Homo sapiens: one gene and its partners. The protein of the gene in region 5 purifies or fractionates together with the protein of the main gene of each other region. This does not show direct contact. Each region holds a gene or a part of one and is shown on either strand. Other genes may lie near its edges.

Region 1 (3,500 bases), on a different chromosome or scaffold from region 5:
GCTGTGTGCCAACCTTATGTCTTTTACTGAATGAGTGTAAGTTCCTCAGTTGCCTGTTTAGTACATAGCATTGTATCTTGCACATAATAGGTTCTCGGTAAATATTTGCTTCAAAAATCTTTTTTCTTTGAGATGGAGTCTCGCCCACTTCGCGCAGGCTGGAGTGCAGTGGCGCGATCTCGGCTCACTACAACCTCCGCCTCCCGGGTTCAAGCAACTCTCCTTCCTCAGCCTCCCGAGTAGCTGGGATTACAGGCATGTGCTACTACGCCTGGCTAATTTTCATATTTTTAGTAGAGACGGAGTTTCACCATGTTGGTCAGGCTGGTCTCGAACTTCTGACCTCAGGTGATCCACCTGCCTCAGTCTCCCAGAGTGCTAGGGTTACAGGCATGAGCCACTGCGCCAAAAAAAAAAAAAAAAAAAATCTTAGTTGGCCTTGTCTGGTTATTGTAATGCAAAGTTTTTTTTTTTTTTTTTTTTTTTTTAAGGGAAATGGGTATCTCCTTATGTTGCCCGGGCTGGCCTTGAACTCCTAGGCTCAAGCAGTCCTCCAGTCTCAGCCTCCTGAGTAACTGGGACTGCGTTTTTTTGTTTTATTTTGTTTTTAATTTGGTCTTGAAGTGGAGTTATATAGGGTGGGGGGAGGGAGGATGGAGTATGACTTGAGGTGTGGGTTAGGTTCTGAAGCGAGCCTAGATGACAAAATAGCTTACAAGCAAAGCTACCCTTGAAATCTCAGGGAGGCAGCATGTTAATTGTAGGAATACCAGTGTTGCAGAACTCTGACATGGCCAGTGTGATATTGTAAAATACATATTTGGCCTTCATCCCTGTCTCCTGTGGCATATGACTCCTATAATCCTTGAAATCTCCAAAATGATTAGTGTCTTTTTATATGCTAAGGAGCTGACTGATGGCTGGCAGCCCCTAAGTAACTTTAGCATGGGGGCTGGTCACTTGAAAGACCCAGGCAGGATTAGAGGGTTGGGACCTTCAACCAATGTCCAACCTCTGGGGAGAGGAGAAGGCAGACGAGCTGATGACCACCAGCGTCACTGGTTTAATTAGTCATGTCTAAGTAATGAAGCTTCCATAAAAATCCAAAAGACTGGGATTGGGGAGCTTCTGGATAGGTGGACATGAGAGGTTCCTGGATGATGGTGCCCCAGAGAGTGCATGGAAGCTCTGTGCCCTTCCCACATGCCTTGCCCTATGCATTGCTTCATCTGTATCCTTTGTAATATGCTTTTATAATAAACCAGTATATGTAAGTAAAGTGTTCCTCTAAGTTCCTCTAAGTTCTGTGAATTGGTCTAGCAAATTAATAGAACCTAAGGAGGGGGTCATGGGAACCCTGATTAATAGCCAGTTGGTTAGAACTACAGGTAAAACAACCTGATTCTTGTGGTTGGTATCTAAAATGGAGGCTAGTCTTGTGGGACTCACCCCTCAACCTATGGGATCTGACGCGGTCTCCATCCAGGTAGGTAGTGTCAGAATTGAACTGAATTAGAGGACACCCAGCTGGTTGGTGTCTGCTACAGAATTGGTTGGTTGCTTGGTGTGTGGGGACATATCCCTCACAGAATTATACTGTGTTGATTGTTGAGTGAGAGAATAGCAAAAATGCTTTGGTTTGGTTTGGGTTTTTTTTTTCTCTATATCCTCAGGCAAGTTTTATTTCGGCTTTGGAAAAAACTGCTGTTTTTCTTCCTGTGAGCCCCAGATGAAGTTGTTGGTTTGTATTTAGGAGTCACAATATGTAAAAAATACAATGAATACAATCATTCATGCATAGTGAGGGAAGTATTTATATTCAGAGAGGTGCATGTGAATGAGGATCAGCTAAGGGAACCGATATTTAAATTAGTTATCTTTCTTCTAGTGTGTATAGGTGAATTCAAGATAAATGCACATTTGAGACCCTGCCCTTGTGCTATGGAAAGATAAATAAATCAATACTTTTTTTTTAACTTCTTTTTTTTCCCCCTCGCCAGGCAAGGTCGGTCTTGTGCTGTTGCCCAGGCTGTAGTGCAATGGCCCTCATAGCTCACTGTAGCCTGGAACTCCTTGGCTGAAGCCTTCCTCCCACTTCAGCCTCCTAAGTAGTGCACCATCACACCTGGCTAATTTTTAAATATTTTTGTAGAGAGAGAGTCTCACTGTGTTGCCCAGGCTGGTCTTAAATTCCTGGCCTTAAGTGATGCTCCCAGCTTGGCCTCCCACAGCTTTGGGACTGCAGGCATGAGCCACTGTGCCTAGCCTGTTTGTCTGTTTGTTTGTTTGTTTGTTTTTAATAGAGTTGGGGTCTCACCATCTTGCCCAGGCAGGTCTTGAACTCCTGGGCTCAAACAATCCTGCCTTGGCCTCCCAAAGTGCTCAGATTGCAGGTGTGAGCTAGTGCACCAGGCCTTAATTTCTTTTCTTTTTTTTTTTTCTTTTTCTGAGACGGAGTCTTGCTCTATTGCCCAGGCTGGAGTGCAGCGGCGTGAAATCTCAGTTCACTGCAACCTTCGCCTCCTGGGTTCAAGCGATTCTCCTGCCTCAGCCTCCCAGGTAGCTGGCATTACAGGCACATGTCACCACAGCCAGCTAATTTTTGTATTTTTAGTAGAAATGGGGTTTCACCCTGTTGGCCAGGCTGGTCTTGAACTCCTGACCTCAAGCGATCCTCCTGCCTCAGCCTCCCAAAGTGCTAGGATTACAGGTGTGAGCCACCATGCCTGGCTGAATTTCTTATTGTATGTGTTTCATAGATGCCTGAAAGATTATTGCAAAGCTGAATTTTTTATTGTATGTGTTTCATAGATGCCTGAAAGGTTATTGCAAATTGCTCCTTATGATAAACATTTAAAATATGGATTAAATTTCTTTTTCTGTGGTTTAGTTTTTAGATTCTTTTAGTCTCCTTTGCTACCGGAATATGTTAATTAAGCTTTGGTGTTAGAAGATTGACTTCACTTTGCCTAGTAATAAATACTAACAGCGGGCTCTCTGTTAGTAGTTGTTGTTCTCTAAATAAATTTTATGATATAGGAAAAGTCAGCTAAATTTTTAAAAATCTAAATAACTGTATCTTGGTAGAAGTGCCTTCTGGCCAGAAATAAGTCTTTATTTGAAATATAGATGAGTTAGCCAGATGGCAAATTCCTCTTAGTTGCTGTCCTGCATTTTGAAGTACAGTGTGACTTGAACATCAGAGTAAAAAATGTTGGAAAGCAATAATCTATATTTACTCACAAAAGGAAATGGATTGACCTATTGCTTTTGCTACTGAAAGTGAAGCCTTAAAACAACAGAACACAGAAACCTGATTCTGGTGTGTTTTAACATGTACAATCTAATTAATTTTAGAATTAGAAGGATATGGTGGCCAGTGATGTAAACACTCAAGTAGTTTGCCATCACATAATTCAATTCCATAGGAAACCAGATCTCATTACTTTGTGTCATGGCACTAGCTAAATGGAGTCATTTTTCAAGTTAGGAATAGCAAT
Region 2 (6,154 bases), on a different chromosome or scaffold from region 5:
CTTTTCCTTCTCCTCCTTTTTCTTCTCTTGACAGAGAAGATTGTCTCTATATCCACTTCCTCACCTCCCATGCCTTCTACTTATTTTCTCCTTAAATAAAAAGTTTATTTTGGGTGGAACTACAAATTACAAAGGCCAATATAATGAATACCTATATATTAATGTTAACATTTTTATTTATCACATTTACTTTAGCTCATTTTGGGGGAGAGTTTCCTTTCTTTTATTTAATAAATACAAAAGAATGCATAACATGTACATAAACTGTAGAGCTTGAAGATAAAACTGACATGCATGAACCTATAAAAGACAACCAGTAAGCCAAAAGATTTTCAACAACTTAGTATCCATATGTAAGTTCCTCTGCCATCCCATGAAAATGGGACAGATAACACTGTCCTGAAGTCTACACTAATTATTTCCTTGCTTTTTCCCCCCTGTGTATTATAATTTTATGACACGTATATCCATACAAATAATGCATTATGTAATTTTCCTTCTCCTTGAACTTTACCAAAAAATGTCATCATAGTATATGCCGTTTCCTGGGACTTATTTTTTCATTCTGCATTATGTGTGTTTTCAGGATTGAATTGTGTTGTCTGAGGCTATGGTTTGTTGATAGTCACTGCTATGAGTATTTTATTGTATGAATATACCACAACTTATTTATTCATTCTTTGGACTTTGAGTTGTTTCCCATTTGGTTAGTTATTATTAGTTATTTTGTGACTATAAGAATACATGTATGTAAGAATTTCTCTAAAGCCAAAGGTATATGAATGTTCAACTCTAAAACTTAATATCAAATCACTTTCCAATGTGGGAGTAAGAATCTACACTCCCACTAGTGTTGTATAAGTTTCCATTTATCTTCTTTGCCAAAGCTTGTTAGACTTCTTAAACTTTGCCAGTGTACTTAGTGTAAAATGGCTTCTTATTGTGGATAATTCATCTTTCCTTTTCCATAAAATGCTTGTTTATGACTTTTGTTTATTTGTCTATAGGGTTATCATCTTTTCCTCATTGATTTGTAGAGGTTTTCTTTATCAGCCATATGGGTTACAGGTATCTTCTGCCAGTTTAGCTTATTTTTTTATTTTCTTTTTGGTTTCTTCTGATGAGTGGAAATTCTTGATTTCAATATGGTTAAAATATTTATCTGTATGTGGGTACTTTTGCTTCTCATTTAAGAACTTCTTTCTATCTCAAGGTGTAAAGATATTCAACCAGTTTTCTTCTAAAAGTCTTAAAATTTCACTTTCCATTTTTCCACCTAGAACTGATTTCTGTGTGTGTAGCAATATAGGGATCAAATTCATTTTTTGTTTTCCCTATGGACAACCAACTGCCTAGTTTAATTTAATTCATTAAATTGTACCTTGTTTCCCCAGTGATCTGTTCCCACATGTGATACATTATGACAGACACATAGATAAATAATTTATAAGTGTATATGTTTTATTTATAATTTTTATTGTATCAGAACATATAAATCATATAAATATATGTAAATTTTATATATATATATTTATTGCTAATATCAATCCTGTAAAGGAATTTCCCTTCTCGTTAGTTTGAAGAATAGTGCTTCAGGGGGTTTTTATCTATTCTGTGATTTTAGTCACTATCCATATACTCGTGGCATTAAAATTTATTTCATCAAACCAGACCTTTCTTTACAGCTCCATATTCACATATCCAGTTACCCACTTGACATCTTCAAGTAGATATCACACTGTCTTTTAATATTAACCTGTCCAAACCAACTCTTGATCCTTCCATTGCTTTCTACCCCTAGTCTCTCATTGTTTTTATTGTAATCAGTGACATCATCTTCCCAGCTTTTCATTCTGTAAATCTTAGAGTCATCCTTCATCATTCTCTCTTCCTTACCCCCAATATTCAGTCTATCTCTTGAATTTTCCTACTCTGCTTCCAAAAGAGATCTTGTGTCTTTCCATTGCCAGCTCCTTAGTCTAAGCCTCCTTTATCACTCACCTGGGCTGATAAATAATTGTTTTGGAGTTGATCCTTCAATTTTCCATTCTTTTCCCCTGCCCTAATCCATCTTCCTCATAGCTCTAGAGTGAGCTACACATTTAATTAAACACCTTTTTATTTTATTTATTTGTTTATTTTGAGTCGGAGTTTCGCTCTTGTTGCCCAGGCTGGAGTGCAATGGCACTATCTCAGGTCACTGCAACCTCCCCCTCCCAGGTTCAAGTGATTCTCCTGCCTCAGCCTCCCGAGTAGCTGAGATTACAGGTGTCCACCACCACGCTTGGCTAATTTTTTGTGTTTTTAGTAGTGATGGGGTTTCACCATGTTGGTCATGCTGGTCTCGAACTCCTGACCTCAGGTGATCCACCCGTCTCGGCCTCCCAGAGTGCTGGGATTACAGGCATGAGCCACCACGCCCAGCCTACTTGGACACCTTTAATGGTTCCCGTCTGTCCGCCAGGTAAGCCCACTGTGCCCTGCGGTGATGACCCTCATGCCACCAGCTTCTGCTCCAGCCTTTCTTACTCATTAGGCTCTAGTCTCACTTCTTATTTTTTAAATTGTGAGTAATTTTCATGCTTGGTAGTTGATTTCTTTTCCATCTCTGTATGCATACTTCCTGCACCTAGTAGGCACTTGATTTTTTTTTCTTTGAATACACAGCAGATGCCATGTAAACTCATTAGTACTTGCCTCAGAACACTGAATTCTTACCTGTGTTAAATGCATGAATACATTAAAAACTTTTTAGTTTTACTTAGAAGTATATAAAGTGTAAACTAATCAGTTATGATTGTCATACGCAATAGTTAGAAAACTACTTTGACTTTTTTTTCTTTTTAATAAGCTATAAAGCGTTAACAGCCAGTGAGATAGAAGATCTTAAGCTGGAGAACTCATCATTACAGGAAAAAGCGGCCAAGGCTGGGAAAAATGCAGAGGATGTTCAGCATCAGATTTTGGCAACTGAGAGCTCAAATCAAGAATATGTAAGGTATATAGAGCAAATAATGGCCTTAGAACCATTAAGACAATTTAATGTTGAAAGCCAGCTAGTAACTGTCCCTTGGCTTGCTTTTGGCCATCTTATACTGCAAATTAAGAATTTACTCAGTTAAAAAATGACACTTCTTGAAGAGTTCCTTGAGGTTTAAAGAAAAAAAAAGGAAAAATTAATGAAAGTGGCTATAAAATGTTTAGTGACCTCTTCTCTCTCAAACCAAAGGATGCTTCTAGATCTGCAGACCAAGTCAGCACTAAAGGAAACAGAAATTAAAGAAATCACAGTTTCTTTTCTTCAAAAAATAACTGATTTGCAGAACCAACTCAAGCAACAGGAGGAAGACTTTAGAAAACAGCTGGAAGATGAAGAAGGAAGGTAATCTATGATTAGAACCTGAGTGCCTTGTTAACTCAGTTACGATGTGATTTTTTAAATAACTATGTTTTTCTCAATTTAATTCTTCCATGCAGAAAAGCTGAAAAAGAAAATACAACAGCAGAATTAACTGAAGAAATTAACAAGTGGCGTCTCCTCTATGAAGAACTATATAATAAAACAAAACCTTTTCAGGTTTGTCAGTTAGGAGTAAACTTACTTGTGTTTATTTTAGGGACTCACTTTGTTCCCTATTATAGTGAGGACAGTGACTCGGGTTTTCTGCAAGATCATTTTGCTCTGCACTTACAGTGCCAATTTAGCTCACTATTAAAGGTTTATACATTTTATTAAATTATGCATAATTTTTTCCCACATTATTGAAGTATAATTGACAAATTTAATTGACATAATTTTTTCAATGGACCCTTTGTGGTTTAAAAAAAAACTTTGTAATGTGGAACTTAAAAGTTTGGCTCAGAGGGCTTGCCTGGTATGAGCTTTTGATAATTAACCTATTTTAATTTGTGGTATGACTTATTGCAAATACTCATTGTTTCTCAATATACTGATCTTTTAAAAGAAAAAAGAATAAATGCTGATTTTGGAACTTAGAAGTACAGTATTGGTTATAATGTGGTAATCTAACTGATACAGATAAAACTGGCCAGCTGGCTTTTTTACCTTGTTTCTTTTCCTCTGTTTTAATGATCTTTAAAATGAAAAATACAAAGTTTAAAAGATTCTCATAGAGAATCTATGGAGAGCCCTGAGAATATGTGAACATACCTTGTTTTCATTTGTGTTTTTAATTTTCTTTAGTGTTTATGGTTTATATGAAACTAGTAAGATCAAACTGTTTTAAGTCTTAACTTTATTTAAAAAATCTTTTTCAGCTACAACTAGATGCTTTTGAAGTAGAAAAACAGGCATTGTTGAATGAACATGGTGCAGCTCAGGAACAGCTAAATAAAATAAGAGATTCATATGCTAAATTATTGGGTCATCAGAATTTGAAACAAAAAATCAAGCATGTTGTGAAGTTGAAAGATGAAAATAGCCAACTCAAATCGGTTTGTAAAATGACTTTTCATTTTATTAAAGATATTGGAGTGGGGGTTATTCTAACTATAATACTTAAATAAAATGAATATCTTTGGTATCAGAAAAAAATAACTGTTTATAGAGGAAAATTGAGCTGTGATTTAGTGGATTTATTTTAGAGTGTTGACCAGATGGGCATTCAATGTTCTAAAGTTTTCTAGCTACCTTCTTAATATATTGAAAATTACTTGAGTAATTGGATGAATTCATTAAGCTTTACATATCTATTTCCATTTGCAAAACTGCAAACTCCTTGATGTAAAACCATAAAGAGAAGCAGTGTTCAAAAATATTTGGGCATTTAAATTTTTTAACATATGTATTGAGATATAATTGACAACCCATACAATCCACCCATTGAAAGTGGACAATTCAGTGTTTTTTAGTATACTCACAGATTTGTGCAACCATCACCATAGTCAATTTTAGGACATTTTCATCACCTCAAAATGAAACCTTGTTATCCTTTTCCTAACACTCTCCTATCTCCTCACCCCACCCCACCCTTCAGCCCTAAGAAACCACTAATCTACTTTCTGTCTCTGTTGATTTCCCTATTGTGGACCTGGCATATTCATGGATTCAAATAATATGTGGCCTTTTGTTACTGGCTTCTTTCAGTCAATTAGCATAATATTTTCAAGATTCACCTGTGTTGTAGCATGGAGAGTACTTTATTTTTTTTATAGCCTAATAATTCATTATGTGGGTATACCACATTTTATTTATTCGTTTGTCAGTTGATAAACACTTGTTTGCACATTTTTGGCTATTATGAATAATGCTACCATAAACATTCATGTACAAGTTTTTGTATGGACATTTGTTTTTTCCTGGGACATATTATTTCCCTGGGAAATAATAGGAGGGAAATTGCCAGATCATTTGATAACTCTACATTTAATCATTTCAGGAAGTATCAGACTACATTCAGATGAGATCGGGTGCGTTCAGGGTGGTATGGCCATAGAAAGGTCAGGCTGTATTCAAAAGTGGCTCATACCAATCTATATTCTACAGGCGGTGTACGAGGGTTCCAATTTCTCCACATTCTTACCAACATTTGTTATTATCTGACTTCTTTATCCTAGCCATTGTAGTGGGTATGAAGTGGTATCTCATTAACTTAACTTGCATTTTCTTAATTGGTAATGATGTTGGTCATCTTTTCATGTGCTTACTGGCCATTTGTATATCTTCATGAAAGAAATGTCTGTTTATACTCTGCTCATTTTTAAATTGGATTATTAGTCTTTTTATTATTGTGAGAATTCTTCATCAATTCTGGACACAAGTCTCTTATGTATTATTTGCGAATATCTTCTCCCATTCTGTGCATTGTCTTTTCACTTTCTTGATGATGTCCTTTGACCCAAAAAACTTTTATGACGTCCAGTGTGTCTATTTTTTTGTTTGTTCGTTCCTTGGTATCTATCTCCTCTGCCAAATTCAAGGTCAGGAAGATTTACCCCTGTGTTTTCTTCTAAGAGATTTATAGTTTTAGCTCTTACATTTAGATTATTGATTGATTTTGAGTTAATTTTTGTATGTGGTGTGAGGTAAGGGTCCAGCTTCATTCTTTAGCATGTGGACATGCAATAGTCCCCACACTATTTTTTAAAGAGAATATTCTTGCCTCCAGTTAATGGAGTTAGCATCCAATTAAAA
Region 3 (6,154 bases), on a different chromosome or scaffold from region 5:
GAAACAAGAGTAAGAAGATATGACCCAAAAAAGAAAAAGAAAAAGGAAGAAGAACTTGAAATCTAGTAAATGAAAAGGATATTAGCCAGGATGATAGACTCTGGACCAGACATAGTCAAAGACAAAATTAGTGGATTGGCAGTTACTTCACAAAATTGACCCAGATGACAGGGACAAGATGGAGGGGCACAATGATAAAATTCAAGGTCCTGAATTCAGGCAGGCCTGTAGCCGACTCTGTACTTTGACTTGACAGTTATGTGCCATATTATGGCTATTTATTAATTATTATTTTTTGAGATGGAGTTTCGCTCTTGTTGCCCAGGCTGGAATGCAGTGGTGCAATCTCGGCCCACCGGAACCTCCACCTCCCGGGTTCAAGCGATTCTCCTGTCTCAGCGTCCTGAGTAGCTGGGATTACAGGCATGCACCACCATGCACCACCATGTCCAGCTAATTTTGTATTTTTAGTAGAGATGGTGTTTCTCCATGTTGGTCAGGCTGGACTCGAACTCCCGACCTCAGGTGATCTGCCTGCCTCGGCCTCCCAAACTGTTGGGATTACAGGTGTGAGCCACCATGCCTGGCCTAATAATGGCTTTTTAACTGAAGCTAGTTTGAGTCTGTTTGCTTTTTGCCTGCAAGAGAAATAATCTTTCCTCATGTACGAACCCCTTCATGAGATGACAGTGTTTCGTTAAAGTTAGCCATTAGATGATCTGACAGTCAGCTAGAGTTAATTATCAGAGATGTAAATCGGTATTTGATATGATTAATATTGGCACATAAGAAATCTCTGAAACTTAGGAAGGAAAACAAACTTGGTGGGAGGACATGGACAGAAGACCGGTCTACTTGGCGGCCTCTCCCTACCCTCCTCCCGCACGCTGCCCAGCCCAGGAGCCCGCTTCTGAATGCTGCGTTCGATCTCTGAAGAGGTTTCAGCACTTACAGATCCTTACCAGGTTTTAAGCCACATTTGGGTGATCTTCATTAGTATTGTTGGCATTTCTTTGTGTTTGCAAGTATGCACTGAAATACTGAATTGAAGAGCTATTCATGTTCTTTAGCTAATTTTATGGTCTCAGGAGCAGCCTTGTCTCCAAAACTCACTGTATAATATGTTTATAATGTCTATATATATTTAATTGCAATAAAATATACTAAGATAAAACTTGCCAGCTTAAGCAGTTCAGTGAATGCTAGATTCATGTAGTGGAATGTGCTTGTGTCCCCTCCCCACCCCCGCTGTGTTCAGCCTCTGCTGTTACTCCCCAGCCAGGCGCAGCTTTGGATGTGTCCACAGTCACCCTGCTGCTGTCTTCCACTCTCTCTGACCACACTCAGTTCTGAGCCCCACATATGTTTCTGTTGTCTTCAGCAGTGCCCTGGGATAATTAGAAACCAATTCAGTGAAATTGTGGCTAATTCTAAGAAACAGTTTCTGAAGTCATTTTAGGAGATTTGTTCCTACTCTGGAGGGCTCCTGCAGCAAGAATTCTCCAGCTCTCCCTGCTGACTAGCCAGCCGCAGTCCAGGCTGTGCCTCCATTAAACCCACACCTCCAGTTGCCTTCACTAGGACCTCCACTGCTCCTAGGTTTAAAGAGAGTGCCCAGGGTTTAAATGTTAGTGCCCTAACATTTAAAGAGGTTTAAATGTCACCAAACTCGTTTCTCCCTGAATGACGCCCCTGGTCTTATGGCGGCAGCCAGGGCCCTCTCAGCTTGTCACTCCAGCCCTGCAGCTACCGTCTTACAGAGCCAGGGCACAGCTGATCAGGACCCCCAGTATTCTCAGCCTGCCACACTCAAAGTTGAGCCTCCATTCCAGAATGGAGGCTGGACAGAGGTAGGAAGGCCCACTTTGCCCATGACTCCACTAGCCAGGATGCAGCATCAGCACCACGTAGCTGGGGTGGGGTGGAACTGGGGGAGAGGGCACTACATTATCAGCTGCAGCAGTCTGGAACAGAGTCGCTGCCTCACTGACCTGGAAAGGGGAGGCAGGGAGCAGTCTTGGTTCAAATACAACAGACTCTGGCCTTTCTTACTGAATTTTCAGTTGTTTGCTGTGAACCCTTAGAACGATCTCCAGAGTCTCAGAACAGTTGTTTTCTTACAATGTTCACCTGTTTTCCTTGGGAGCAAGCAGGTCAGTGGAGCTTCTTGTGCTGTCATGCTAGAAGTTGATTACCCACAGTAGGGATTCTTGCAGAAGAAATATTACTTTAGAAGAGAGGCTGGGCACGGTGGCTCAAGCCTGTGGTCTCAGCTACTTGGGAGGGTCACTTGAGCTCTGGAGGTCAAAACTGCAGTGAGCCATGGTCACACCATTGCACTCTAGCCTGGGTGACACAATGAGACCCTGTCTCAGAAAGAAAAAGGAAGAAAAGGAGGCTAGGACAGGGGTGGTGGCCTTCTAGGCCATCTTTCCTCTCTCTCCAGCAACTCTAGATCACATGTCTGTGAGTCATTTAAAATGTCTTCATTCAGTTCATGTCAGGATCCTGTTCAGGAAAATGTTTTGGACTTCTCTGGCTGCTGAGAAGGTGGACTTGGATTCCCCTTCTTTCCCTGCTGTCCTTGTCCCAGGGTGCAGGGATAGAGGGAAGTCAGATGGTCTGTCAGTGTTGTGATTTGTTAGGGAATCTGTGTGGTCCATTGATGCCCTCTTTCTCTGGAGGATCACTGAGATCCCTTCCCCATAACTTGTAATGAGGTTGCCTTTGTGTGAAGACTGTGGAGCCTTGATGAAAGGCTTTCTTTAGGGGGTCTTTCTTATTTATTTAATTTTGTTTTGTGATTTTCTAGGAGTTCGCAGCACTTACTAAAGAACTCAATGTATGCAGGGAACAGCTCCTTGAAAGGGAAGAAGAAATTGCTGAACTGAAAGCAGAAAGGAATAACACCAGGGTGAGTGTGACCTTTCTGTTCACTGCCTGCCCCTGGAGCCACTGTCAGGAGGAGGGGCGGTGTGTCAAAACGAAAGGACGACCCACTCTGTCTGGCCTGAAATACTTTTCATACCTTTTCCCACTGAGCAGACTGTGATTAGTCAGCATGATCACACATTAATGGCTTGAAATTTGTGATGAGAATTTATGATATTTTAATACAATTGAGAGGAATTTGTTTTTCTGCGGAATTGAAGGGACTTCATTTTAGTATGAGACTGTAAAGGAGTTATTTGCCCCAGATTCAATCATGAAATTAAAAATGCTGTTTAACAAGTCTTTATTTTGGCCTTTTATTTCAGCTGCTGTTAGAGCATTTGGAATGCCTTGTCTCCAGGCATGAGCGGTCTCTTAGGATGACCGTGGTGAAGAGACAAGCGCAGTCTCCAGCAGGCGTGTCCAGCGAAGTGGAAGTGCTGAAAGCACTGAAGTCCTTATTTGAACACCACAAAGCTCTGGATGAAAAGGTGCCATCAGCCACATAAGTCTTGGTTTGTGCACATGCTGTGTATTAGGCCAGCTTCACAAGTGTTGGTGTAACTTTTGTTTTTTGAAGCTTCTTGAATTCTTGGAAATAACTTCTCTAAGAAGACAGGGTTTTGTAGGTTTAAAAAGTACTAATTGGCTTAAATGTCTTAAAATTACTAATGTATATTGATTTGCTGTTACAAATTGGGTAGTATTAGGTTGTTGCAAAAGTAATTGTGGGCAAAACCTGCAATTACTTTTGCAACAACCTGATATTTCGGGGGAAGATTTATTTTTCTGAAACTTAATTTAGAGCCATTAACAAGTTTTCTTGACAGTAAGATCAATGACAGACATTAATGGTATTTTATTATGTTATATTACACTAATATATACATTAAGTGTATATATTACACTTAACTATATATTAAGAATAAAATAAACAGTATACACACACACACACAAACTCAACCCCTTTTATTTTCAGGTGAGAGAGCGATTACGAGTAGCACTTGAAAGATGTAGTTTGTTAGAAGAGGAATTAGGTGCCACACACAAAGAGGTAAGCTTGAGACTTCATCATGAGTTGAATTGGGGGGGGGTTATTTTTATCCTTTAATTATTAAAAGCAGCATAAGGCCAGACGTGGTGGCTCACACCTGTCATCCCAGCACTTTGGGAGACCGAGGCGGGCGGATCACCTGAGGTCAGGAGTTCCAAGACCAGCCTGACCAACATGGTGAAACCCCATTTCTACTAAAAATACAAAAATTAGCCAGGAGTTGTGGCATGTTCCTTTAGTCCCAGCTGCTCGGGAGGCTGAGACATGAGAATTGCTTGAGCCCAGGAGGTGGAGGTTGCAATGAGCTGAGATTGCACCATTGCACTCCAGCCTGGGTGACAGAGCAAGACTCTGTCTCCAAAAAAAAAAAAAAAAAGTAAAAGAAGTATAAGGACTGTAGTTGTACATATCACATGTTACTTATCTTCCCAATTGAGGACCAGCCTATCTGAGTCATTTTAAGGACTACAAAATGATGGTTACCTAAGGACTCGTCTGGCCAGTGGATAATAAATTCCATCTTCAATGATCTGGTTATTTTCGGATTGGGTAGCATTGCCATATGCTTTCTCTTTTATACTATGTTAAGCAGTTTTTAGTTGTGTTTTTCCAAAAGGAGTTTTGCTATCTTTACTTATTTCTCTTATGTAAGGTATTTTACACTCATATTCAATTTTTTGCTTTCAGCTAATGATTCTTAAAGAACAGAATAATCAGAAAAAAACTCTAACAGATGGAGTGCTGGACATAAACCATGAACAAGAAAATACACCAAGCACGAGTGGAAAGGCAAGTCTGTAGGCTTTGTCTTTATTCTGTTTGATTTCATTTGTTCACAGTATGTGTCGGGTTATGTGGAAAACAGTTGCTAAAGTACCGGCTTAGAGCTGAAGTGGTCATGAAAGTTGTGTAATCCAACAGATTGCATAAGTCAGTTTTGATTTTAGCTATTTCCTGGAAGTATTTTTATTTTATAGCTCACCAAACAAGGGTATTTAAGGATTTTTTTTTCCCCCTATCAGAGATCTTCTGATGGTTCTTTAAGCCACGAGGAAGACCTTGCTAAAGTAATTGAGCTCCAAGAAATCATAAGTAAGCAGTCAAGGGAACAGAGCCAAATGAAAGAACGCCTGGCTTCCCTTTCCAGTCATGTGACAGAACTGGAAGAGGATCTGGACACGGCTAGAAAAGATCTCATCAAATCTGAAGAAATGAACACAAAATTGCAACGAGATGTCCGTGAAGTGAGCAATAACAAAAACTACAGTCTTGTCATGAAGTTGTATGTTTGGGACGTTTTAGTTAAATGATTTTTTTTCTCTGTTTGTCTCTTACTCTCCCAATTACTTTCAACCTTTGGATTATTGTATAAGTTATATTGAAAAAGAGAGAGTGCTGTGAAACTGCCATAAGCTACCTCCCCATTTTTGTTGTGAAATCTCCTGTCCCTGAGCTCTTCAAAGTAGAGAACTAGTCCCACTGACTGACATGGCCATGAAGTGGACGCCACACTGGCCTCTCCTACCTGTGCTGCTTTAATATTCTTTAATGTCCTTGTTTGTAGATTCTTCATCTGTGCAATTTCTAGGCTGTCTTAATTTGTTCTTATGTTCAGATTGCCTTCTGTTGCACACATACTTAGCAAGCAGATATTGATACTGGCTGTGCTAGCTCACGTAGGGCAATGTGAGTATAGTCTCTTAACTGTGGGAGGGGGCGTTGCTGGCGGTCTTCTCATTTTCTGACCTGCTCCTTCAAGGAATTTGTGGCGTTGAATATTAATGGTCAAACAATCAAGAGTGGAATTTGCTTCTACATGGGTCATCAGGATCGTATAGCAAAAATATGTCACAATATACTCATTGCTGACAAATATTTCTGCCATTATAACTGTGAGAAACTATTTGATCATGAATGCCGGGCGTGGTGGCTCACGCCTGTAATCCCAGCACTTTGGGAGGCTTAGGCGGGCGGATCACGAGGTCAGGAGATCGAGACCATCCTGGCTAACACGGTGAAACCCCGTCTCTACTAAAAAATACAAAAAAATTAGCCAGGCGTGGTGGCGGGCGCCTGTAGTCCCAGCTACTCGGGAGGCTGAGGCAGGAGAATGGCGTGAGCCCAGGAGGCAGAGCTTTCAGTAAGCCGAGATCGGGACACTGCACTCCA
Region 4 (6,154 bases), on a different chromosome or scaffold from region 5:
TTTTGTCTTTAAAAAATGTCTTGCTTTCTCCTCTATTTTCCCTATTTTATTTTTGTTATTTATTTATTTAGAAACAGAGTCTCGCTCCATTGCCCAGGCTGGAGTGCAGTGGCGTGTTCTTGGCTCACTGCAACCTCCGCCTCCTGGGTTCAAGTGATTCTCATGCCTCAGTCTCCCGAGTAACTGGGATTACAGGCGCACACCACCATGCCCTCTTAATTTTTATATTTTTAGTAGACAGGGTGTTTCACCATGTTGGCCAGGCTGGTCTCGAACTCCTGGCCTCAAGTGATCCACCCACCTCGGCCTCCCAAAGTGCTCGGATTAGAGGCATGAGCCACCGTCCTCAGCCCTGTTATTTATTTTTTAAAAAAATTATTTTAAAGTTCTTTTCAGCGATATTTACTGAATCTACCTCTTTCACAAGACAGTGGGCAAGATTCAAAGAATAGTAAAATATATCCATTGCTTCTGCTTCGTGCTGTTTATTGAGAAAATGAGAGATGCCTGTGTGTGTACACTAGAAGTCACATCTAAAAATGTTTATTAATTGACAAAAGAATGTCTATGAACAGGAGCCTCAAGGAGGAGGGAGAGATTAATGTGAGGTGGAGTAAACTTTTAAGAGGAGTGTAAGTTATTAAAGTGAATATAATTCCATTTAATAATTCTTACTACAGCCCTAATGTATGCAAGGCACTATGAAATAAATTAATTCCTTCATTTGTCAGGGGGCAGTGCAGAGCTCCTTTTTGGAAGAACGTATTCATGGGGCAGCCCAAATGGGCTGTCGGAATGTTAGTTAATATTTTGAGAAGACTTCAGAATTTATTCATGTCCTTTCTCCACTATCCCCTTGTGGTCTCCCACCCCCCAATTTCAAAGGTAACTTTTAGGATTTTTGAATGTGTCTGGGAGCCTGCATGCAGGTGCACATGGTGTATTCTTAGTCCTCTGTTTTCCTATGTTTGAGACTCAGTTATGAATCTCAAGGTTAACTTTGTCACAGAACACCTCAGAGTGTTCTGTCCTTTAGGTATTCATCATTTAGATCTGTTGCTTGGTTTTTTACCTTAAAAAAATTTGTAAAAAATGGCTTACAAAGTAACATTAGCTTCCAGAATGTGAGTGAAAAGGCAGACTTTTACCTTGGACGTTCTCTATGACTTGATCCTACTTGTACTTTTCAGAGCAGTTGCAAATAATATTTCAGTTAATTCTTTCTTTCTTTTCTTTTTTGAGATGTTGGAGATAAGCCCAGCTGTTGAATGAGGCACAGTTATGAAAGGTTAAGTGGAAGTTTAATTGTAACTTCAGGACTTCAACTAAATTAAATTCCAAACAATCTGAAAAAAATTGTAGCCTTTTCAGTACCATGGAAGGTCAAAAAGTGAGCACTCTGGAGCAGCTATTGATGTTTTATATTTTGAGATAAGCCCCAAATTATTAATGCTACTAAATATCATTGAACATTATTTGATAATTGTAAACATCTAAGAGTATGCCAGATGACACAGATTAAATTTAGTGACAAATGTGCTTAATGACAGTATAAATATCAGGGTTTTTTTTTTTTGTCAGATAAATTCTATGTAAGTCTGTGTGTGTTTTCTTTCAAAGCAAAATGAGGCTATATCTTGGTAGCAGGATCAGCTTGGTCTTTTTTGAAACCTAGAGCATTTATCACACATGACATTTTGTTGATTTTTTAAGTCTATGTGATCAATATTTTGGACCTCTGAAATCTATTTTTGATTGTGGTTTGAAATTCTCTGTTGGTTCTAAGTGGTGGCTTAATGATAGCAGTTGCTGTTGTGATTGGGTGAGCAGTGTGTTATGTGATTCATGTGGTACCGTCCCATGCTAGGGTGGATTTTGCAGCTAGGGTTTTCTCAGATTGGCCTGGCTATGGAGAACTTCACTGCAAAGAAATGTACACATGAAAGTGGGCCAAATGCAGATGACTTTAACATCGCCCATGTTATGGATAGAATGGGGTGTGAATCTTTCCCACACTTTCCACTTAAAAAAAAAACCTTTGCTAATAACAGTTTCAATCAAATGAATAAGAATTCAGAAGTGTGTGGTAATCTCTCTTGAGAATTTGGTACCTATCTGATAGGACTGTAAAGGCATTTCAGAATGTCAATTAAATGGAAAAATATGCCTGGAATTGAATATAATTAAGAAATGTTGAAGTCTGGTGTCTACATATTCAGACACTGTATAAGATGGTTTAATTAGTGAACAAGGATTTGGATTTATTGACAGAAGGTCTCTTTCTCATGGCATGTTTCACTCATTAAAAGCTCATAATGTCTTGGATCTTTTTAGCTGTTGGAACTTGACCATTTGTCATTTTGTGCTTCTTGACTTCAGTGATGTCGTTTTTTTTTTTTTTTTTTTTTTTTTTGTTTAACTGTGCAACTGATTAGGATGATGTTGCTTCTCTCATTGATGATTATTTCCATGGAGTGGACGCATGGTGTCTTGTAAACATTATGAAGCATCACCAAAGCACTAGGCAAAACTCAGTACCTCTGAAAAACAACAATTGGGAGGTAGAATTATTATTGTGGAATTTTTGGCCTAGCAACTTAGAAGTAATTAGAGTAACTTCCTCTTTATAACTACTAGCTTTATATTATATTTACCTGATGGCAGAATTTACATTTAAATTCACATTTCTCTACATCTCTCTCAGTTTTTCAGTTAATGGTTTATTAGTTTAAATCCTTTTTATTCCTGACTGTTGGGCTGAAACAGTTTCTAATCATACAGAAGACTGAAATTCTTTTTTAATATTCTTGTTGTTGGATATATTTCTTTTTGAACTGCATTTGATGATTATAAGTGCCTGAAAGAACTGCAGTTAGTAAAGAGAGAACTTGGGAATGTTGACAAGTGAGGTAGGGAGAAACATGGTTCAGTTAGTCCTTGAGGATTTTTCATTACCTGTTTATAACTTAGATTTTGGCTGTCTCCTATACTGGTACTAATGTGAACAGCTACTTTATAAGATTTTTTAATTCCTCATCTTCATAGGTATGTTCTCTAAGTCAGAGCTATTTAAAGTAATCTAGCGTTCCATCTTTCCTGTAGACATAGCAGATCATTCACAGTCTGGTTGAACTAAGTACACATTACATCGTTGGTCGTTTTGGTGGCATGTGCTGGGTTCTTCAGGCCCGTGTCATTGTTGGCAAAGTATACTAAGAGTGCTACTATTATCTTGGACTAATTTTTTCATGGAGCATATTAAATAAATGTGGTGTCTGACCCTTCAAAAGTTAGCTTCCTCACCTGAGTGATGTTCAGCTAAATAGGTATAAGTCGTAATGTATGTGTGATCCTAAGTCAGTAAGATGGTGAACTGAAGTGACATCATCTGCTTGGAAGTCCCTGGATTAACAATGGGACTTATATTTATATTCAGAAGACAACTGCTACAATGAGGAAATTGGGCAATCTAGGCAATTGAACAATTGAATGGGAAATGTAAGACAAAACATATTATATTGCCAGATCAATTCCCTAGATCTTGTTGAATTATACGATAATTAGATAATCTTCTTTTATTTGGAAGTGTACATTTTGTAAGTGTAATAACTTGCAATAATCACTTTATTCCTAAGTTGTATTCAGCAGTGCACATGTTGTGTTCAGTTTACATTCTGCATATTTTTGTTAAATAGGTAGTATTAATAACATATTTTACCTCATATCCAAAGAGAAAGAGGGAGATGCAGGTATTTTGAGATTTATCACTTTCATACAGCTCATCAGTGGTTACTATAATAATCCAAGTGAATAAACCTAGATTGTTCTTTATACAATAGATATGTTTTTAAACATTGAGTGTAAATGACATTTTTCAAAACAAATCACATCTTAAATGCTTTCAACTAGGGAAAATACACTCTTTATTTAAACAGATGTGGCAAATTATTTTTATAAAGTAAATAACAATTTGTCTCTCTTACATTTATCTGTTTTTTAAGTTTAGATTTTGTATATTAAATTTCTCAAAGAGATGCAAGAGTGTATACATATTGGAAATACGTTTTTGTTCAAATATATAATAAAATGAAAGAGTTTGACCTTCTCCCTCAGTACTGCTTTGACGAGAAGTGGCATCAGAGGGGAAAATAAAGGGAGAAGATGGAACTAGAATGAGAAAAAACAGAAATGTCCACCTAGTTTATGGAGATGTTGAGGAAATGTTAAAGTTTAAGAATTTCTGGGCCAGGAGTGGTGGCTCACGCCTGTAATCCCAGCACTTTGGGAGGCTGAGGCAGGCAGATCACCTGAGGTCAGCAGTTCGAGACCTGCCTGGCCAACATATAGTGAAACTCCGTCTCTACTAAAAAATACAAAAATTGCCAGGCACGGTGGCTCATGCCTGTAATCCCAGCATTTTGGGAGGCCGAGACCAGTGGATCACAAGGTCAGGAGTTCAAGATCAGCCTGACCAACATGGTGAAACCGTATCTCTACTAAAAATATAAAAATTAGCCAGGTGTGGTGGTGGGTGCCTGTAATCCCAGCTACTCAGGAGACTGAGACAGGAGAATCTCTTGAACCCAGGAGACGGAGGTTGCAATGAGCCGAGATTGTGCCATTGAACTCCAGCCTGGGTGACAACAGTGAGACTCCGTCTCAAAAAAAAAAAAAAAAAAATTAGCTGGGCGTGGTGGCACATGCCTGTAGTCCCAGCTACTTGGGAAGCTGAGGCAGGAGAATCGCTTCAACCTAGGAGGCAGAGGTTGCAGTGAGCTAAGATTGCGCCACTGCACTCCAGCCTGGGTGGCAGAGCAAGACTCCATCTCTCAAAAAAAAAAAAAAAATTCTGGACAGAAGGGCCAGGCCAGTCCAACCCAGAATCATACCTCTGACAATGTCAGTACTTTTGCTGACACTCCCATTTCTAGCCTTTGGAGCATCCAGAGAAGTTCCCCTCATCTCTCAGGGCCTCTTGTCTTCTGCAGCCCCTCTGCCTTTTTCTCTCTTTGGTACTTCTTGGCCCCTTTATCTCTCCCAACCCTCTCTAGTTCCTGTAGTCACTGGTTGCAGCTCCATGCCGTCCTGAAGGTATTGCTTACACCTGACCTCTTATATGGTCTCTTCATATCTCTGCACTCAGGTCCCCCTACACTTTGTGGTATTATTGCAGCACTGTTCACATGCCTTGTAATGAAATTACCTGCGCGGGTGTCTCTTTCTCCCATAGGCCATCATTCCCTGGGCTCAGTGGGATAACATATTAACCTTTGGTCTCCCACTCTTATTGCTATATCTTGCTGGTATTTAATATTTAAAATTGAATGACTCTATTTGTTTATGTTCAACTTGGTTAGTGATTATGGACTTCCACAATTGACCATCTATGACCAAATATTGAAAAATATCTCTTTGAGCTATTAAGACTGCGTTATGATTCTGGTACTGCAAAGATATATTACTTCTGAGGTCCACATTTCACAGTTGGAGGAAAGATCCTCTAGGCATAAATACACATGCTCTTTATTGGCTGATCTGCTCAAGCTCTGGATCTTTCCTGTATGTTCTAAGCAAGTGTTGGGAACACATCAAGAGGGCATGTTGGATGCATCCAGGTGTCCAGCCGCCTTTCAGTAGCATCACTTTGTCTTCAAGGAATGTATGATAAGGGTGTTATGTACCTAATAGTACATTTGCATGGCGTTTGATGTTCACAGTCGAAGGTAAAATAGACTGGGAGGTAGGAGCATATCTCAGTGCTGAGTTCTTTGTGTCTCAAGAAAGCATAGAACACATAAGTAAGAATGTTATTATTATAAGAATCCTTGGAGCCTTTCTCAATTCTATTTAAAAATTAAATTATTCATAAACACCTGTGCTGTAACTATTATTACACTAAGTTACAGTCAACACACCTCATAAGGGATTGAGTCTTTCCAGTATATTCTGAGGCCCAGATGCCCACTGGGGTATGGGTCACTCCATAGTGACCATTGTGGGCAAGAAGATCTTTCTTTAAAAGTTGGAGGTACAGTTTCTGGTACATAATAATGCTTGTCTATGTAAAGCGAATGTATGAAGTAATGTGACAGTTCATAATGGAATAGATAAAAATGCAAGTCTTGTAAAATTTAAATCCCCCTCTCCTTTTTTT
Region 5 (5,162 bases):
GGTAAGTGGAGGGTGAGCAAGCATTACTGCCTGAGCTCTGCCTCCTGTCAGTCCAGTGGCTGCATTAGATTCTTATAGGAGCGCAAACCCTATTGTGAACGGTGCATGCGAGGGATCTTGGTTGTGAGCTACTTATGAGAATCTAATGCCTGATGATCTAAGGTGGTTTCATCCTGAAACCATTCCCCCAAACCCCAACCCCTTCAACCTCTGTGTAAAAATTTTCTTCCATGAAACCAGTCCCTGGTGCCAAAAAGGTCGGGGACCACTGCTCTAGCCTAACAGAACAACATTTAATACTGATGCCTTCCCTTGAACCCAGCTGTCCGCTACCACTACTCTCCTGCCTCCACGAGGCACCTGTGCAGAAGTTATCTATCCTAGGAGGCAGAGCCCATGCAGCTGACAGGCTCTGCACAATCCTGTAAACTATTGACAAATTTCACCTGTTACGTAACTAGGAGCACTTTATCAGACTATCTTCCATGTATCTGATATAAAAACCACAGTCAAGTACACCCTCAATACCACAGCACCACGCTGACTAAGCATGACTAGCTCTTTCAAACAGTTATTTCTTAAATGCTCACTTGCAGCTTATATGTTTGTTTTGCATTGTATGAGGGCTCCCAAGCAGACAGGTGATAGCAACACAGTATGAAAGACCAAGTCACGCTTAAGATGGCCACATGCAGTGTCTCACACTTGTAGTCCCAGCTGAGGTGGGAGAACCGTGTGAGCTCAGGAGTCCAAGGCTGCAATGAGCTATGATCATGCCACAGCACTCCAGCCTGGGTGACAGCATAAGACTCTGACTCTAAAAAAAATGTTTTTAATTAAAATTCTGTCCAATTTAGTATGCTTTGTGCCCACCCTGTAGCAGGCTCTGGGAGATACAAGAAAAGTATATAACACAGTTAAGGAGTTCATAGACTAATAATAGCTGTTACCAATAAATGAATATACATTGTAGTTTATTTAAAAAGACATTCATGTGCATATACCCATTTGATGCTCTCAATAACCCAGTAAAATAAAGATTATTATCCCCCATATAAAAATGAAGAAAGTAGGCCAGGCGCAGTGGCTCACGCCTGTAATTCCAGCATTTTGGGAGGCTGAGGAGGGCAGATCACCTGAGGTCAGGAGTTTGAGACCAGCCTCACCAACATGGCAAAACCCGTCTCTACTAAAAATACAAAAATTAGCTGGGCATGGTGGCGTGCACCTGTAATCCTAGCTACTTGGGAGGCTGGGGCAGGAGAATAGCTTGAACCCAGGAGGTGGAGGTTGCAGTGAGCCAAGATTGCACCAGTGCACTCCAGCCTGCACGACGGAGCAAGACTCTGTCTCAAAAAATAAATAAATAAATAAATAAATAAATAAACAAACATAAAAAAATTAAAATAAAAATGAGGGAAGTGAGCCTTAGGAAAGAGAGGTAACCTACCTCCATGCAAGGACCACAAAGCTAGGGACTACAAAGGCAACAGTTAAGCCTGGACCCAGGTCTCCTGACCTTAAAACTTACATTCTTTTCAATGATATGTTTTGATACCTCTTCAGCTGTGCAGGAGAGTAAAGTGAGACAGCCTTCCTGGTTTGTGAGCTGCTAGAGGACACAGACAATGTCCGCACCCGCCTTCTTTCCTCAGGGCTTGGCACAGAGGACACACTCAGAGTCTGTCTGTTGACAAATACCTGACTGCAGCAGGAGCTGAGCTCTGGGAAAGATCAGTGGGAGCCGGAGTGACTGGGGAAGCCTTCTTGTCAGAGGTGGCACTTGGCCTAAGCCTCGTAGGATTGGGGGTGTGGTGGGGAGGAACAGCAGGGGCAAAGACTCAAGGCCAGACAGGGCCAGATTCACCTCCCTGGGGACAGCCTTTCTGCTCTTTGTTTCTACAGGCCCGGGGCTCAAGCCCAGTGTCACTAGACCTCATCATTCCCTTCCTGAGGCCAGGGTGCTGTGTCCTGGTAAGGAAACCTACCCTCACTCTACATACAGAGCCTTGGCATCTGCTCCCCTAGTGGCACCCACCCCTGGAAAATCCATTCTGCAAAAATGTTTGGTTTGGCCAGCACAGTGTTTTAAATTGAAATTGCTTACCACCATTTACATATATAAACAAAGCTGGATTTCTGGCCTCTGTTGAAAAATCAGAAAAACCTAGTGCCGTGTGTCCACATTCTGGCATGGTGACAATGGCCTGGAGCTCAGTGCCATCTGATTGTTTCAGTCAGGGCCTGTGCTCTCCAGGTCCTCACAGCAGCCCTGGTCAACTTTGAGTTTACTTTTTGAGTTTGGCCCCTGTCACACTTGAGTTTGCCACCATTGACCTGTTCTGTGCCAGGCTAGCAGCTGGAGCAGACACAAACCCACCTGGGAAGAATTCCCTAGCCAGTGGGGACTCCCCTCTCCCCCAGCTCCATGCTTCACTCAGCTCCCCGGGAGGAGAAGATGCCTGGCTCATAGGGGTGGGGGGCTCTGTGCCCTCAGGTGTGGCGGTCAGATGTCCAGTTTGCCTGGAAGCACCTCTTGTGTCCGGATGGTGAGTTCTTGGGGAGGGGGAGGTAAGAGGGAGGCTGGGCACTGAGGAACTGGGCTTGGCCTCATCCTGCTTGACTCAGTCTCTTACAGACACCTGGGGCTCTTGATCCTGGCACTGCTGGCCCTCCTCACCCTACTGGGTGTTGTTCTGGCCCTCACCTGCCGGCGCCCACAGTCAGGTAAGCTCACCTGGGGTAACCTGGGAAGTCAGACCTGCCCAGCTCGGAGACTAGCTGCCCCCTCACCCTCCCCTGTCTGAGCTCTCAGCACTGCACCCAATCTCTGTTACCCAGGCAGGGAGCCTCAGGCCCCCAAGTGAGCAGGAATGGTTAAGGCAAGGCAAAGGGCCCTCTGAGCATATTGTCACTGTACTGAGTCTCTGTACAAAAGGCTAGTGGGGCAGAAATCCAGCCTGCGCTGTACTCGCCCAGCCTGGAGCCCTGACCCTCTCTTCAGAAGGGGTGCCTTTATCTAATTAGCCCATAAGCACCCTATAGGCTAGGGCTGTTTTCGGTACCAACCCCCAGAGCAAATAAGGGGCGGGGGCGGGGGCGGAGAGGCGAGCACCCTACGGTATCCCGAGAGGGTGGGGAGAAGAGGGCTGAGCAGTCCCTCAGCCGCCCAGCCTTCATCTGTTGCTTCCCGCCACCAGGCCCGGGCCCAGCGCGGCCAGTGCTCCTCCTGCACGCGGCGGACTCGGAGGCGCAGCGGCGCCTGGTGGGAGCGCTGGCTGAACTGCTACGGGCAGCGCTGGGCGGCGGGCGCGACGTGATCGTGGACCTGTGGGAGGGGAGGCACGTGGCGCGCGTGGGCCCGCTGCCGTGGCTCTGGGCGGCGCGGACGCGCGTAGCGCGGGAGCAGGGCACTGTGCTGCTGCTGTGGAGCGGCGCCGACCTTCGCCCGGTCAGCGGCCCCGACCCCCGCGCCGCGCCCCTGCTCGCCCTGCTCCACGCTGCCCCGCGCCCGCTGCTGCTGCTCGCTTACTTCAGTCGCCTCTGCGCCAAGGGCGACATCCCCCCGCCGCTGCGCGCCCTGCCGCGCTACCGCCTGCTGCGCGACCTGCCGCGTCTGCTGCGGGCGCTGGACGCGCGGCCTTTCGCAGAGGCCACCAGCTGGGGCCGCCTTGGGGCGCGGCAGCGCAGGCAGAGCCGCCTAGAGCTGTGCAGCCGGCTCGAACGAGAGGCCGCCCGACTTGCAGACCTAGGTTGAGCAGAGCTCCACCGCAGTCCCGGGTGTCTGCGGCCGCAACGCAACGGACACTGGCTGGAACCCCGGAATGAGCCTTCGACCCTGAAATCCTTGGGGTGCCTCGAGGACGACTGGCCGAAAAGCCGCATTCCCTGCCTCACAGGCCGGAAGTCCCAGCCCAGTCCCCGCGCGCGTCCCTCTTCCTCCTCATACTTTCCCTTGACTGAGAGCTCCTCTAACCCCTGTTCTGATGGGGGAGGGCGGTCTTCCCACTTCCTCTCCAGAACTCCAGAAAGAGCAGTGTGCTTATGCTTCAGTCCAGGCTGGAGAGGTTGGGGCCGGGGTAGGGAGGCAGGAGCCATGTCAGTTCTGAAGGAGGGTGAGGCGGTGGGGGATTGCAGGGGGCGGCTGAGAGAAAACCTCCTTGGGGGCCAGGGATTCCCTTTCCCACTCTGAGGCTCTGGCCAGAGGGAGAGAGGACTCTGGACCTAGGAAAAGAGGCTTTTGGCTCCAGGTGGTCAGGACAGTGGGGGTTGGGGGTGGGGTGGGTGGGTGCTGGCGGTGGGGACCAAGATCCGGAAAGATGAATAAAGACAAACATGACAAACTAAGAAAACACAGTGTGCTTCTCTAGTGTGGCTGGGGAGCCTGCCTGGTGGGGTATGTGTCAGTGTGCTGGCCCAAATCCTCTGTGTCCATACCGCATGGCATCCGTCACATTCTTACAAGCAATGCCTCCAAAAGCAAAGGAGGATGGGGCAATCTCCTTGATCCCCCCCAGTGATTCTTACAAGAGGAGAGGAAAACAGAGGCTTCGCCAGATGGTGTGTCCATCATCACACAGCCGGCCCACAGCAACAGCACAGATGGGACCCCTGTCTGCCAGGCTCTGGGGTCCTGGGTTCCTTCTACTCCCCATACCGCATTTGAGCCAGGCAGTGGTGAAAAGCCCACTTTCTGGTGCCTTTTGTCCGTGCTTTTAGAGCTCCTGTCCCACAAAGGGTTACCGAGGCCCAAAGAGTGTCTGAAGGGACCGAGTGTGCCTAGTAAGGGGAGACTTAGTGGGCCCAGGACTCCAGGGCTGTGTCCTCCTTAGGGCTCCGGGGGTGAGTAAGAGCTCCCTTACTCAGCCGTGATGCATTCGCTGTCTTCTTCAGGGGCCCCTCCCAGCCAGGTGTCAGCAGAGGGAGAGGAGAGCCAAAGAAGGAGGAGGTGCGGCCACCACCCTAGTCCAAGGCTGCTGGCTCCCAAGCCTGGTGTTGGTGGGAGGGACAGAGAGGGGCGGGAACAGCCAGCAGCCTGCCGGGAGCCAAAACGAAAGCACTCCGTGCTGGAAGTAGGAGGAGAGTCAGGACTCCCAGGACAGAGAGTGCACAAACTACCCAGCACAGCCCCCTCCGCCCCCTCTGGAGGCTGAAGAGGGATT

What was found.
Region 1: the proteins of IL17RE (region 5) and PSME3IP1 purify together in Homo sapiens (affinity purification with mass spectrometry; one large-scale study listed by BioGRID and IntAct). This does not show direct contact.
Region 2: the proteins of IL17RE (region 5) and HMMR purify together in Homo sapiens (affinity purification with mass spectrometry; one large-scale study listed by BioGRID and IntAct). This does not show direct contact.
Region 3: the proteins of IL17RE (region 5) and PPFIA1 purify together in Homo sapiens (affinity purification with mass spectrometry; one large-scale study listed by BioGRID and IntAct). This does not show direct contact.
Region 4: the proteins of IL17RE (region 5) and FAT3 purify together in Homo sapiens (affinity purification with mass spectrometry; one large-scale study listed by BioGRID and IntAct). This does not show direct contact.

What each region holds. Positions count from the first base shown.
Region 1 is NC_000016.10:57,179,540-57,183,039, reverse strand, and holds part of PSME3IP1 (PSME3-interacting protein), read left to right. Parts: intron 1-489; exon of another isoform or gene 490-1,423; coding exon of another isoform or gene 1,424-1,486; intron 1,487-3,500. UniProt on the Homo sapiens protein: Promotes the association of the proteasome activator complex subunit PSME3 with the 20S proteasome and regulates its activity.
Region 2 is NC_000005.10:163,479,791-163,485,944, forward strand, and holds part of HMMR (hyaluronan mediated motility receptor), read left to right. Parts: intron 1-2,813; exon of another isoform or gene 2,814-2,851; coding exon 2,852-2,998; exon of another isoform or gene 2,999-3,229; coding exon 3,230-3,382; exon of another isoform or gene 3,383-3,477; coding exon 3,478-3,577; intron 3,578-4,278; coding exon 4,279-4,455; intron 4,456-6,154. UniProt on the Homo sapiens protein: Receptor for hyaluronic acid (HA). Involved in cell motility. When hyaluronan binds to HMMR, the phosphorylation of a number of proteins, including PTK2/FAK1 occurs.
Region 3 is NC_000011.10:70,321,590-70,327,743, forward strand, and holds part of PPFIA1 (liprin-alpha-1), read left to right. Parts: intron 1-2,812; coding exon 2,813-2,914; intron 2,915-3,218; exon of another isoform or gene 3,219-3,257; coding exon 3,258-3,422; exon of another isoform or gene 3,423-3,538; intron 3,539-3,910; coding exon 3,911-3,985; intron 3,986-4,672; coding exon 4,673-4,774; intron 4,775-5,007; coding exon 5,008-5,229; intron 5,230-5,510; exon of another isoform or gene 5,511-5,665; intron 5,666-6,154. UniProt on the Homo sapiens protein: May regulate the disassembly of focal adhesions. May localize receptor-like tyrosine phosphatases type 2A at specific sites on the plasma membrane, possibly regulating their interaction with the extracellular environment and their association with substrates.
Region 4 is NC_000011.10:92,230,242-92,236,395, forward strand, and holds part of FAT3 (protocadherin Fat 3 isoform 1 precursor), read left to right. Parts: intron 1-6,154.
Region 5 is NC_000003.12:9,912,051-9,917,212, forward strand, and holds the end of IL17RE (interleukin-17 receptor E isoform 1 precursor), read left to right. Parts: coding exon of another isoform or gene 1-1; intron 2-1,655; coding exon of another isoform or gene 1,656-1,905; coding exon 1,906-1,974; intron 1,975-2,351; coding exon of another isoform or gene 2,352-2,497; coding exon 2,498-2,549; intron 2,550-2,628; coding exon 2,629-2,727; exon of another isoform or gene 2,728-3,200; coding exon 3,201-3,757; 3' UTR 3,758-4,347; downstream 4,348-5,162.